Homo sapiens: one gene and its partners. The protein of the gene in region 1 interacts with the protein of each later gene in a biochemical or structural test. Each region holds a gene or a part of one and is shown in the gene's direction. Other genes may lie near its edges.

Region 1 (3,500 bases):
TGTAACATAGAATAGTGAGTTAAAAAATTAGGTAAGATGAGTAGGGCCTGATTGTGGAGAACCTGATAAGTCTAGCAAATGAAACCTACACTGTAGTGTCTCAACTATGTGGCATGGTGGAAGTAATTATTTGGACCACTTACTGAAATCAATCTACAGGGCAACTGGAAGGATCAAGGGATTCCAGTTTAGATGCTATTGGGATGATTCAGGCATAAAGTAGAAGGGACTTAGACTAGAATGAGACCATGAAAATGGAGAAAACTCATCTCTGCGGAAGCAGCGGCTAGCTATTATGTTGAGGATGAAGGAGAAGGAAAAGTTAAAAGATGATTTTAGGGTTTCCCAACTGAGAAGGTTAGTGGTATCACCACTGACAATTGGAAAGAGGACACAGTTATATGGAGATGATGAATCAAATTTTGGACGTAACTACAGTTGATAGTAAAACAGCCAGGCGGAATTGCCCTTTAAACGTGCAACTGGAGAGAAGTGAAATGTCATTTTGGAATATTTGGTAGTTGCCCACATGGTATGATAATTGACGTCTTTAAAAGAGGACTAGGGGCCGGGCGTGGTGGCTCACATCTGTAATCCCAGCACTTTGGGAGGCCAAGGCGGGTGGATCACTTGAGCTCAGGAGTTTGAGACCAGCCTGGGCAACATGGTGAAACCCCGCCTCTATTTTTTTTAAAAAAGAAGAGGACTAGGAAAAAAGCCATTGGCTAGAACAAAGAAAAGTTGTTGGTGACCTTTGGGAAAAAATGAAATAGTTTTAATAGGGGGATGGAGTGGAAGCTAGATTGAGGTAGAATGTCGTAGTTGTTCATGCTGGTAACAAATAACTAAACCTCTGTTTCTTCTTCAGAGGATGGAGAGTTAAGGAGAACACTGCAGTCATTAGCCTGTGGCAAAGCTAGAGTTCTGGCGAAAAATCCAAAGGGCAAAGACATTGAAGATGGTGACAAGTTCATTTGTAATGATGATTTCAAACATAAACTTTTCAGGATAAAGATCAATCAAATCCAGATGAAAGAAACGGTATTTCTTTCACTTTCTCTTAGTCCTAACACACTGGAATTATACATGTTAATAATCAAAATATATAAAGATTTTTATACCTGTAATACTGCCAATACCATTAATATTTTTTGTGTCTATGTCCAGCTAAATATGTTTCCTGATTTGATTTTGGGTGTTTGGGAGAGTGGTTGTACAGGATTGAGATGATACTCAACATAGTTTCATATCTTACTTTGTTTATTTAGTATTCAATCTTTAGAATTTTTCCATGCCATTAAATAGCTTCGAAAAATGGCAGATGGCAGTGTAATATTTTTACATGGCTCTTATAGTTTGTTCAACCACTGTTCATTTTGGGGCAATTAAATTCATGACTTATTAGTATTATAAATAAGATTGCAAGAAACCTCTTTGAAACTAAATTTTAATCTCTGATATATGATAAATTTGTGGAAGTAGATTTTTTTGGGTTAAAGGGTATGAACATTTTAGGAGTCTTAGTACATAATGTCATATTGTGTTCCGGAAAGGCTGGACCAGTTTATACTCTGTCCAGCAGCATATGAGAGCCTGTCTTACTATGTCCCCCAGCACTAAAGATTATATTTTCTTTTGCCAACTTGCTTGGTGAAAAATCTGAATTGATTTATTCACTATTTATTTGATTAACAGTGAAGGTGGGCCAGGTACGGTGGTTCACACCTGTAATCCCAGTACCTTGGGAGGCCGAGGCGGGCAGATCACCTGAGGTCAGGAGTTCAAAACCAGCTTGGCCAACATGGCGATACCCTGTCTCTACTAAAAATACAAAAATCAGCTGGGCGTGGTGGTGCGTGCTTGTAGTCCCAGCTACTTGGGAGGCTGAGGCATGAGAATCACCTGAACCCGGGATGTGGAGGTTGCAGTGAGCTGAGATCGCGCCACTGCACTGCAGCCTGGGTGACAGTGAGACTCTGTTTAAAAAAAAGAAAAAAAAAACAAAAACAGGGAAGGTGAATATTTTGTTTGTTTTTGCCATTTGAATTTGTAAGAGACTTCCAACTGCAGCATCCTGAAACTGATGGTTTCAGTTCCAATAAGGTTTAATGCAATATTTGAAAAAAAAAAAATTTTTTTTTTGAGGTGGAGTCTCACTCTGTCACCCAGGCTGGAGTCAGTGGCACGATCTTGGCTCACTGCAGCCTCCGCCTTCCAGGTTCAAGCGATTATCCTGCCTCAGCCTCCTGAGTAGCTGGGACTACATGCGTGAGCGACCATGCCCGGCTAATTTTTGTATTTTAAGTAGAGATGGGTTTTCACCATATTGACCAGGCAGGTCTTGAACTCCTGACCTCATGATCCGCCCATCTCGGCCTCCCAAAGTGCTGGAATTATAGGTGTGAGCCACTGAGCCCGACTGAAAAAATTTTAATGTAGGACAGCGACCAGTATCTCCAAACAAGTTCCTGTCATTTTCACATACACATCAAAGACAGGATATTTTCTTAAAGGATTACCATGTCCTTACTTTTAAAACATTTATGCTGTACCAGGAAGAAACTGCTGCAAAAAGGCCAAACTGTTTTTTTGGTTTAATTACTAAAGATGAACATTTTTACTTTAGCATCAAGATTGGTAAACCGCCTCCTAAATACCTACATTTCTGTAAGTCTTGAAGGATTGTAAGCACTAATGGCATGCATGTCTGATTTATATATTACAAAATAAAAATTAATTTTCAAAGAGGTTGACTCTTAACTAGTTTGCTTAGCCAGTTAATACCATGCCTTGAGTCAGAGATCAGACAGAGTCACCTTATAGACAAGCTATTGTCATAGAGAAATCTGGTTAACAATCCATTGAAACTGATACACACATTTAGAAGATATATCAAAGACAGAGTAAAAAAACAAAATGGTAAATTCCACATCAGCTATCTCTACTTCTAGAAAAGCAATTCAAAGATGATGTTTTTCTATTAACTAATATTAGCATTACTTCATTGGTATAGGGCAATATAATCAGAACAGAAAGGAGTTATGTTTGTAGGATTTTTCTCTGTCAGCATCTATATTTATAAGACCCCATTTAGATAATTCAGTACCTTTAAAGCAATAACAATGTCATGTCCCTAAAATGCACAATTTATGTAAATAGTCAGGTTTTGCTTCTGGTATAATTCCTAGGTTTAAAACTTTTTTGTTAGGTTGAAGAACAAGCAAGCACTACAGAAAGAGTATTTCAAGACAGACAGTATCAAATTGATGCTGCAATTGTTCGAATTATGAAGATGAGAAAGACACTTAGCCACAATCTCCTTGTTTCAGAAGTGTACAACCAGTTGAAATTTCCAGTAAAGGTAGGTACTTCTGTGTTTTCCTATTGAGCGTGTTATAAATAAAAGAAAGTACATTAGATTTTCAGACACAAATCTTGCAAACATAAAGCGTCATGACCATTTAGAGAGAGAAAAGTTTTAATTTCCCATGTTGATGCAT
Region 2 (2,767 bases), on another chromosome or scaffold:
GGCAATATCAGTGAGAGGTGATTCAGAAGAGGCATCTGGGGCAGAGGAGGAGGTGGGGACAGTGGCGGCAGCAGCCACAGCTGGGAAGGAGATGGACAGTAATGAGAAAACTACTCAACAGTCTTCTTTGCCACCACCACCACCACCTGACAGCCTGGATCAGCCTCAGCCAATGGAGCAGGGAAGCAGTGGTGTTTTAGGAGGCAAGGAAGAGGGGGGCAAACCGGAGAGAAGCTCAAGTCCGGCATCAGCACTCACCCCAGAAGGGGAAGCCACCAGCGTGACCTTGGTAGAGGAGCTGAGCCTGCAGGAGGCAATGAGAAAGGAGCCAGGAGAGAGCAGCAGCAGAAAGGCCTGCGAAGTGTGTGGCCAGGCCTTTCCCTCCCAGGCAGCTCTGGAGGAGCATCAGAAGACCCACCCCAAGGAGGGGCCGCTCTTCACTTGTGTTTTCTGCAGGCAGGGCTTTCTTGAGCGGGCTACCCTCAAGAAGCATATGCTCCTGGCACACCACCAGGTACAGCCCTTTGCCCCCCATGGCCCTCAGAATATTGCTGCTCTTTCTCTAGTCCCTGGCTGTTCGCCTTCCATCACCTCCACAGGGCTCTCCCCCTTTCCCCGAAAAGATGACCCCACGATCCCATGAGCCTGTTTTTCTGTACCTGCTGCTCTTTGTCCCACAGAGCAGAAACAGCTTCACAAAAGGACCTCCCAGAGTTATGAGCCCTGATTTTGTCTTTTTCTCTAAGTTCTTAACATGTTATGTCCCTAGTGGCTTTTCTGTAGTCCCTGAGCTTGGAAATTACTGTGCTTACAAGGGGATGGCCCCCTAAGGAATTTTTCTTCCCTCCTCATTCTTTGTACCTGAGGAACATAGATTCTCTGCAGCTTTCTCAAGGGGAACCCTCTCCAGCTTCCCTGGTGTGACCCTTCTTCCCCCTCCTCTCTCCTCTCCCTTTCCCTTTGGTAGGTGCACCTGAGCACCTACATTTGGCATTGCAGCCTAGCCAAAAAGGGCTGGCAGCTGTCTCTGGAGGGCCCAGTGCCACTCCTCTGGGGTGACCTTTCTGCTCAGCTGGTGGGTATGGGTCCCCTATCTTTCTAGAACCAGTATGTGGCATTCCTGTCAAATGGCCTGCCCATGAAGCCCTGGAATTCCAGCTCCACCTCCACTACCACTCCAAGCCTGGCCCCACCAGTGCTGTTTGGCCTAGGAACTGTGGCTGGGAAGGTGCCTCCAACAATGGGATCCAGGGAAGCCAAGGAGAAGACAGCCCCCCTCCTATTTCAGCCTCCTGCACCCAAGGCAGTGCCTGAGAAGCCCATCATAGACAAGAAGTAGCAAACTGTACATTCCTTCTTCCTCCCCCTGCTCCAGAAGGTGCCGGTACTGAAGATGCTCCAGTAATTGGTGACCCAACCCTAGGAAGTAGGGAGAAATGAAGGAAGGGCATAGGAAAATTTTCCCAGTAAATCCCCTGATGGTCACATTAAGGTAAAGGTTTTGGCTGGTCAGTGTGCCAAGACCTCTCCAGCTTCTCATTCATGATGACCTCTCAAAGTTGGGAAACAAGCTGATTTCTTGCCAAGAGGTCTCCCAGGAGATATTTGGGAAATGTGAAGTTCGTATCTTTAAGGAGCATTTTTGGTCAGCATGGTTGATGAACTAATGATGAGAGAGTTAAGGAATGTTGCTAGAACATAGGGCTTGCTGGTACCTATGTGACTAAGAAAGGGACATGATGTAAGGGAAAAGGCCTCAAATTCTTGTGAATGTCTGGACATTCTCGTTAATATTCTTTTGGGCTAATAGTGACATAGTGTGCAGAGGTGTACCAGGGATCATGGGGGATTTCCTAGCACTAGTATGCTTCTAGTTTTAGATAACTCCCTCCTTTATTCCCTGGCCCCTTGTATTTTCCTTATCTTCCTCTTTCAAGACCCCTACCCATTTTGCCTATCCGTAGGCTGGGGCTTGTGTCTTTGTCATTGTCTGGTTCTTAAGAGTCCCAGACTTTGGGAGACCAGCTCCAGGTGGCGTCCTCCCTGCCTCTCCGTCTTGTAATGAGTTGTAGTATTTACTCTTAACATAGGATCATTTGGAACAGGAGTTCTGAGGAGGAGAGAGTGAGGGTTTTGCTATTGACTGACTTGAACGATGGCTTCTCCTCAAGCTGTAGGCTCCAGAGCTTCCTAACCTAGTAAAATGTCAAGAACAGACGGGAGATATTAGTGTCTTTCCCTCTATCATTAAAGGTGTTTTAACCAAATATTTATGTGTTTCTCCTTATTTCATGATTACATAGCCAGCTGGGGTGTGATATGGGCATTCCCCAAAATTGAGATTCCCTTCCCACCTACATCTCCTGCCAAAGCTGAACATATGGTGTTGAAATATTTACTTTATTCAGCCTTGTCCTAAGACAACCTTCAGTTAATGTAACTTCTCTGTGGAAATTGTTCCCTGTGGAGTTTGTATTTCCAAAAGGTAGGCATTTGCCCACTGTGTCCAGTCATTGTCTAGATTTTCTCTACCTAGAACCTTCCACCACCAGGCTTTTCTGTGGGTTTTGTTTGGAGGTTGGAAACTGTTTCTTTTCCGTCTTTCTCAAACCACAGATCAGCCTTCTGACATCAGCGAATCTGTAGAACCAAGGTGAATTAAACTTTATGATCCTTGAGATCTGATGTCATAATCAGAAAGAAAAAAATGTAATTCAACCCTAATAATTTCTACCAACAAGACAAAGGAGGATTCTTATCATTAGGA
Region 3 (3,500 bases), on another chromosome or scaffold:
TCCAAAATCCAGTTGGGCACAATACCTTAGGCCTGTAATCCCAACACTTTGGGAGGTTGAAGCAGGAGGATTGCTTGAGCCCAGGAGTTCAAAACTAGCCTGGGCAACACAGTAAGACCCTATCTCTGCAACAAAATTTAAAAATTAGCCATACATTGTGGCATATGCCTGTAGTCCCAGCTACTGGAGGGTAGCAGTGCTGAGGCAGGAGGACCACTTGAGCTGAGGAGGTCAAGGCTGCAGTGAGCCGTAATTTTGCCACTGCACTCCAGCCTGGGTGACAGAGCGAGACCCTATCTCAAAAAAAAAAAAAAAAAAAAAAAAAAGGCCTGGCGCGGTGGTTCACGCCTATAATCCCAGCACTTTGGGAGGCCGAGGCAGGTGGATCATGAGGTCAAGAGATTGAGACCATGCTGGCCAACATGGCGAAACCCCGTCTCTACTAAAAATACAAAAATTAGCTGGGCGTGGTGGTGGGCGTCTGTAGTCCCAGATACTTGGGAGGCTGAGGCAGGAGAATCGCTTGAACCCAGGAGGCAGAGGTTGCAGTGAGCCGAGATCATGCCACTGCACTCCAGCCTGGCAACAGAGCAAGACTCTCTCTCAAAAAAAAAAGCCTCCAAAGTCCAAAACTTTTTGAGCACCAACACAATGCCACAAATGGAAAATTTCACATGGGACACCTTTGCTTTCTGACAGGTCAGTGTACCAAACATTGTTTAATGCAGAAAATTATTTAAAATATTGCATAAAATTACCTTCACTCTATGTGTATAAGATGTATATGAAACATAAATGAATTTTGTGGTTAGACTTGGGTGCCATCCCCAAGATAGCTCCTTACATATATGTAGATATTTAAAAATCGGGGCCGGGTGCGGTGGCTCACGCCTATAATCCCAGCACTTTGGGAGGCCAAGGTGGGCGGATCGCAAGGTCAGGAGATTGAGACCATCCTGGCTAACATGGTGAAACCCCGTCTCTACTAAAAATACAAAAAATTAGCCGGGCGTGGTGGTGGGCGCTTGTAGTCCCAGCTACCCGGGAAGCTGAGGCAGGAGAATGGTGTGAACCCAGGAGGTGGAGCTTGCAGTGAGCTGAGATCGCGCCACTGTACTCCAGCCTGGGCGACAGTGCGAGACTCCGTCTCAAAAAAAAAAAAAAAAAGCTGGAGAAATCCGAAATTCAAAACATTTGTAGTCACAAGCCTTTTGGATAAGGGAGATTCAACAAGCAACTTTTACATAGAGTTAAACCTACCTGTGAATCATTTGTCTTTTTTTTATTTTTTTTGAGACAGAGTCTCACTTTGTTGCCCAGGCTAGAATGCAGTGGCACGATCTCAGCTCACTGCAACCTCCGCCTCCCAGGTTCAAGTGATTCTCCTTCCTCAGCCTCCTGAGTAGCTGGGATTACAGGCATGCACCACTACCCCTAGCTAATTTTTGGTATTTTTAGTAGAGATGGCATCTCACCAGGTTGGCCAGCCTGGTCTCAAACTCCTGACCTCAGGTGATCTGCCTGCCTTAGCCTCCCAAAGTGCTGGGATTACAGACGTTAGCCACCACGCCCAGCTTTTTCTCTTCTTCTTATCCTTGAGGACTTTGCAAGAGGAAGCAGGGTTCCAGGAATTAGTGATTCCTTCATGTCACAATAGCCTTTGAGCTCCACTGACCTTGTATGCTGTCTTATGTGTTGTATGCACCCACTGAGGATTTGCTAACTGACGAAGACCCAGGGTTAAGGCTGATGTGGGTTATCTGGGATTAAGCTAGTCCCATGGGCGTGCTTTCTATAGCGTACAATTCCCATTCAGGTGGGAAGGTGAGCTGGGGGTAGCCAGAGATCAGCCTCTTTATCTGAAAAGCACTGAGGTGGCCCTTCCTGGCAGACAGAACAGAGTGGGACTATGGCTTTAGTGCCCTGGAACGATTCCCAGAAACAACCTGAATAGTTGAAACAGCCTACCAAGAAAGGCCTTGGCCTTTCCAGCTACTTCTGATTATTTATTCCAGATTTACCTTTTCCCCAACCTATCTCCTTCAGTATCTAGGTCTTACCGTTTATTAACATTCACCTCCTCTTTCTCCTGTATACCTAGGGGTGGAACAGAGTGTTATTTCTGTAATCAGGGCTTGATTTTATGTGGCTTTTATATGAGGGAAGCCCATCAAGGTGGGAGTCCAGAAACAATATCCCTGCCTTACCCTCTCTGCTGATGCCATGGTTATATCTCTCCTCTATTTTCAGCTCCTCTCCACCAAACTGCCATATTGCCGTGAGAATGTGTGTCTGGCTTATGGTAGTGAATGGTCAGTTTATGCAGTGGGCTCCCAAGCTCATGTCTCCTTCTTGGATCCACGGCAGCCATCATACAACGTCAAGTCTGTCTGTTCCAGGGAGCGAGGCAGTGGTAAGAGTCCCTGTGTGCACCTCAGGCCTACAGCTGCACTGCATATGGGTTCTGACTTTCAGTTTCTTTGTTGGTTTCCAAACAGGTATAGTGCTCTGTATGGAACATTTGGAAGTGTGTTCAAAAAGGGGAGCGATGGCTAGGCGTGGTGGCTTACGCCTGTAATCCCAGCACTTTGGGAGGCCGAGGCGGGTGGATCACCTGAGGTCGGGAGTTTGAGATCAGCCTGACCAATAAATATGGAGAAACCCCGTCTCTACTAAAAATACAAAATTAGCCGGGCGCAGTGGCGCATGCCTGTAATCCCAGCTGCTCAGGAGGCTGAGGCAGGAGAATTGCTTGAACCTGGGAGGCGGAGGTTGCGGTGAGCTGAGATCGCACCATTGCACTCCAGCCTGGGCAATGAGCGCGAAATTCTGTCTCAAAAAAAAAGGGGTGTGGGGGGAGTGACACAAAAGGGCACTAGACTTTCAAACACCACAGACAAATGTGTGGCCACAGAAGCCTTTGTTGGGAGCCACCAGTCAGGATATTAGTTAGTAGTTTCCATGTTCTTTTAGAAAGCTCTACTTTTTTTTTGTTGTTGTTGTTTTTTTTTTTTGAGACAGAGTCTCGCTCTTTTGCCAGGCTGGAGTGTAGTGGCGTGATCTCAGCTCACTGCAACCTCTGCCTTCTGAGTTCAAGTGATTCTCCTGCCTCAGCCTCGCGAGTAGGTGGGACTACAGGCACACACCACCACGCCCAGCTAATTTTTGTATTTTTAGTAGAGACGGGGTTTCACCATGTTGGCCAGGATGGCCTTGATCTCTTGACCTTGTGATCCACCCACCTCGGCCTTCCAAAGTGCTGAGATTACAGGCGTGAGCCACTGCACCTGGCCGAGAGCCCTACTTTCTATCCTGTGGTAATTTTTTTGCTGTGGTCCTGCCTGAACTAAAATTCTATTTATGCTAAGATGTGGCATGGTGGGATAAGGAGGAAGTTTACAAAGGGCATGAGGAAACCTCAGGGTAATGAGTATGTTCATTATGTAGATTGTGGTTATGATGTCATGGATATATACATATGTCAGAACCTCAAATTGTAT
Region 4 (3,500 bases), on another chromosome or scaffold:
AATAGGTTAGTTTCATTCTTACTAGTAGTTTCCTTGTATAAATTTCAGAATTCATAGAAAAATATCTGTAATACTAAGCTAAGTAGCCTTTAGTTGCCAGAGAATACCAAACATACTTATTTAAAATAACTTCCTATTTTAATGCACTTTTACTTAGAAAAAAATTTTTAACAGCTAATTTTAGGATATTTAAGTTGCTTTTGTGGTTATATCTAAAAGTGGCAAAGGCTATTATAGGAATCAAATTTAAAATTTTAGAAAGACATTTTAAATGTGAACATTCTCAGTTTCTATTATTTTTTGAGAAGCTATGTCAATGAAATTATGAGGAAATTGTGAGTTAATAAATTACTTTGCAGTGAATAATGTTATTGGACCTATGGAATATAGAGGAGTGTAAGTATTTTATAACAAATTGGTGAAAATGATAACATGTTTTTTCTTGATGGAATTTGATAAAGCAGGGTACTGAAAAATCACAAACTGTTATCTTATTGAATAGTGATGAATGTAAGTTGACAAGTTACTACAGAGAAGGCAATCATCAGTTGTGAGGCAGGTCCTCCTTTATTTACCTTACACACTCAAAAACAGCCGTATTTGAGCTTAGGCATCACAGGTAAGAAAAGGATGGTTGGATGAGGAGTTTTTGATAAGAAAATTTAGGTGGCAACATAGTCGAATGCAGCTTCTTCTTATATTAAAACTAAATTGTAAGGAGAATGAGATGTGTGGTATAGGTAAGCCCTAGGTTATCCATGACAGTACAGATGGCTATGGCAGGTTTTTTTGCAGAAGAGACACAGGAAGAATTCATGTACAGCAGGCCTTCCTTATCTGCGGGTGTCACATCTGTGAATTCAACTGTAGATCAAAATAGTTTAGAAAAAAATACATAAAAAATTTTTAAAATACATTGTAACAATTATTTACATAACATTTACGTTGTATTAGATATTATAAGTAATCTAGAGATGATTTAAAGTGTGCAGGAGGAGTGTAAAGGTTATACGAAAATACTGTGCCAGTTTATATGAGGAATTAGAGCATCCTGGATTTTGATTTTGGTGTGGGGTTTCCTGGAACCATTCCCCCATGAAGATTGGAGGATGACTGTGTTCTGGACTCCAGCTGACCCATGGTCATGTGTCATGGTCTATTTGGTCTCTGTCATGAATAGAAAAAGGCATGTAACTTGTCTTGGGAAAGGTTATAGTATAATGCAAGAAATACATACCTTGTGTTTGACTCTGGTTTAGTTTTTGGGTGTAGAGACACTAAATTCTAGGCAACTTAGTGAAACATCCGTTGTCTGAAACAACTTTGCTGTCATTGTATAAGAATTGTGTTATTTTGAGTACTGTGCTTGAAACTGAAACATTAAAAATGAAACTGGTCATTCAAGATTATTTACATTGGCCTTAGTATAAGCAGTTAAAGGATGTTTCGTCCTTAAATTAATACACAGTAACTTTTCATCAGATTCCTAGATTTGAGTTTAACGTTTTACTAATAATGCTTTAAAGAGAATTTTAAAATTACACAAATTAGCACATATGACGACTTAAACATCAAAACTTGAAAATTTGTTATTTTAAGCAGTTAAATGTTGTCATTTTGTTGTATTTTAAATTATTTTTTATGGAGCATCCCTACTTTGGTTTATGGAAACCTCAATTCTGAATAGAGTCTCTTTTTTTTAGCAAGATGTAATTGGTTTATGATGAATAAAATTTGGAAGCGTAGTATTGCATTTTCTTTTTTTGTTTGTTTTTCTTATAGTATTGCATTTTCTTTAAATGACAAATTTGTGTTGGTATTTGTATTGATAATGTAAACTGAATTATTATCTAAATGAATTCTTAACAGTTAAGTAAATTCTGAATATGACATATTCTTTGAAGCTTGTTTATTCACAATTACTTGAGCAAATAGACCATCAAGATTTTTACACTTAATAAGGTTCTATATTAATTTTATTATAATTATAAAGAAATAATAGGCATCTAAGGGTCCTTCTGAGAATAGTTACCCAGGTTAGAGGACTTGACTTGTACTGACTTATATGGGTTCTATTAAGTTTTTAATCAAATCTACGTGTCGATGGGGAGAAAAACTAAAGTTCTAATAAGGAAGCTGTAACATAATAAAAATATCAGTAAACTTGGAATCAGGAGACCTGGGTTTGATTACTATTTCTCCTATTTTCCAAATGTGTGCCCTCAGACAAACTGCTGCCTTTGAACTTCAGTTTTCTTTATGTATGAAATAGGGAGAGTAGTTAAGCTTATGTGCTTATGAAGATAAATAAATTTTGGGAACACTCAGCACAAAGTAAGTACTCTGTTTTTCTGTGGAGAAGCTATTACAGTTAAAAAATCAGAAAATGCATTCTTTCTTTAAAGATTATAGATATAATTTAACCCACACTGTTAGTAACAGATTTATAATTGTAAGCTTGGATGTTTTTAGAATTTTAGGGGCTGGGATTTTAATATAGGCCTTACACAGTAATTATCACATAGTATTTCTATAAATTTATATTTATATATTGTATATTATATATTATAAATAATAAAATATAATTAATGTATATACAATATATTGTATTTCTATAATTTTGTTTATATGCTACAGTAGTGTACAAATAAGAACTATATTCCAATAAACTGGCCTTTTAGAACTCAAAAACATAATAGAGAGCAGAAGTGTAACTAGCCTTTTATATCTGACAAAACTGTGAGAGAATAGATTTGAGAAGATCTGAAAAACTGACTTTTTTAGAACCAATTAGGTGTTCAGAACATAAGGATGAAGTGAAAGCCTAGTTAGACAAATGATACTGGTGCCAAACAGCAGGGTCTTATTTTCATAATAATTATATACTAGAGGAAAGAAGGGCACTTCTAGGTCTTCACAGCTAAATCAAATAATTGGAATGAATATATTGATCTAACATCACTTTGAAAAGGTTGTTAAAAACATGCTCAAATTTTTTTCCTATTTAGATTTACAAAGATTTTGTTCAACACGAAGGGTCAATATGTAATATAGAATGTAATTAAAGTAACAGCCAACTGTTAGGTACAGTACTAACTGCTTCATATGGTTTAATTTAATAATTTATGACTACTTTCCAAGGTGGTGACTGTTGTGATACCAGTCATACAGATGAGGACACTGAGGCTTAGAAAGAGTAAATGTTTTTCCCACCCTCAGCCTTAGCAACTTTAAACCCAGGCTGTGTGACTTGAGATTTCGTGGGGTTTTTTGTTTATTTCGCTTTGTTTTTGAGACAAAGTCTTGCCCTGTCACTCAGGCTGGTGTGCAGTGGCATGATCTTGGCTCACTGCAACCTCTGTCTCCAGGGTTCAGGCAATTCTCCTGCTTCAGCCTCCTGAGTATCTGGGACTACAGGCACGTGCCACCACGTCCGGCTAATTTTTGTATTTTTGGTAGAGACGGGGTTTCACCATGCTGGCAGGGCTGGTCTTGAACTC

The links.
Region 2: the proteins of CUL4B (region 1) and SALL2 form a complex in vitro, tested with the Homo sapiens proteins (one study listed by BioGRID).
Region 3: the proteins of CUL4B (region 1) and DCAF12 form a complex in vitro, tested with the Homo sapiens proteins (one study listed by BioGRID).
Region 4: the proteins of CUL4B (region 1) and PHIP form a complex in vitro, tested with the Homo sapiens proteins (one study listed by BioGRID).

The regions. Positions count from the first base shown.
Region 1 is NC_000023.11:120,529,963-120,533,462, reverse strand, and holds part of CUL4B (cullin-4B), read left to right. Parts: intron 1-868; coding exon 869-1,041; intron 1,042-3,208; coding exon 3,209-3,361; intron 3,362-3,500.
Region 2 is NC_000014.9:21,520,580-21,523,346, reverse strand, and holds the end of SALL2 (sal-like protein 2), read left to right. Parts: coding exon 1-643; 3' UTR 644-1,102; coding exon of another isoform or gene 1,103-1,339; 3' UTR 1,340-2,267; downstream 2,268-2,767. UniProt on the Homo sapiens protein: Probable transcription factor that plays a role in eye development before, during, and after optic fissure closure.
Region 3 is NC_000009.12:34,092,199-34,095,698, reverse strand, and holds part of DCAF12 (DDB1- and CUL4-associated factor 12), read left to right. Parts: intron 1-2,250; coding exon 2,251-2,413; intron 2,414-3,500. UniProt on the Homo sapiens protein: Substrate-recognition component of a DCX (DDB1-CUL4-X-box) E3 ubiquitin-protein ligase complex of the DesCEND (destruction via C-end degrons) pathway, which recognizes a C-degron located at the extreme C terminus of target proteins, leading to their ubiquitination and degradation.
Region 4 is NC_000006.12:79,068,255-79,071,754, reverse strand, and holds part of PHIP (PH-interacting protein), read left to right. Parts: exon of another isoform or gene 1-864; intron 865-2,580; exon of another isoform or gene 2,581-3,500.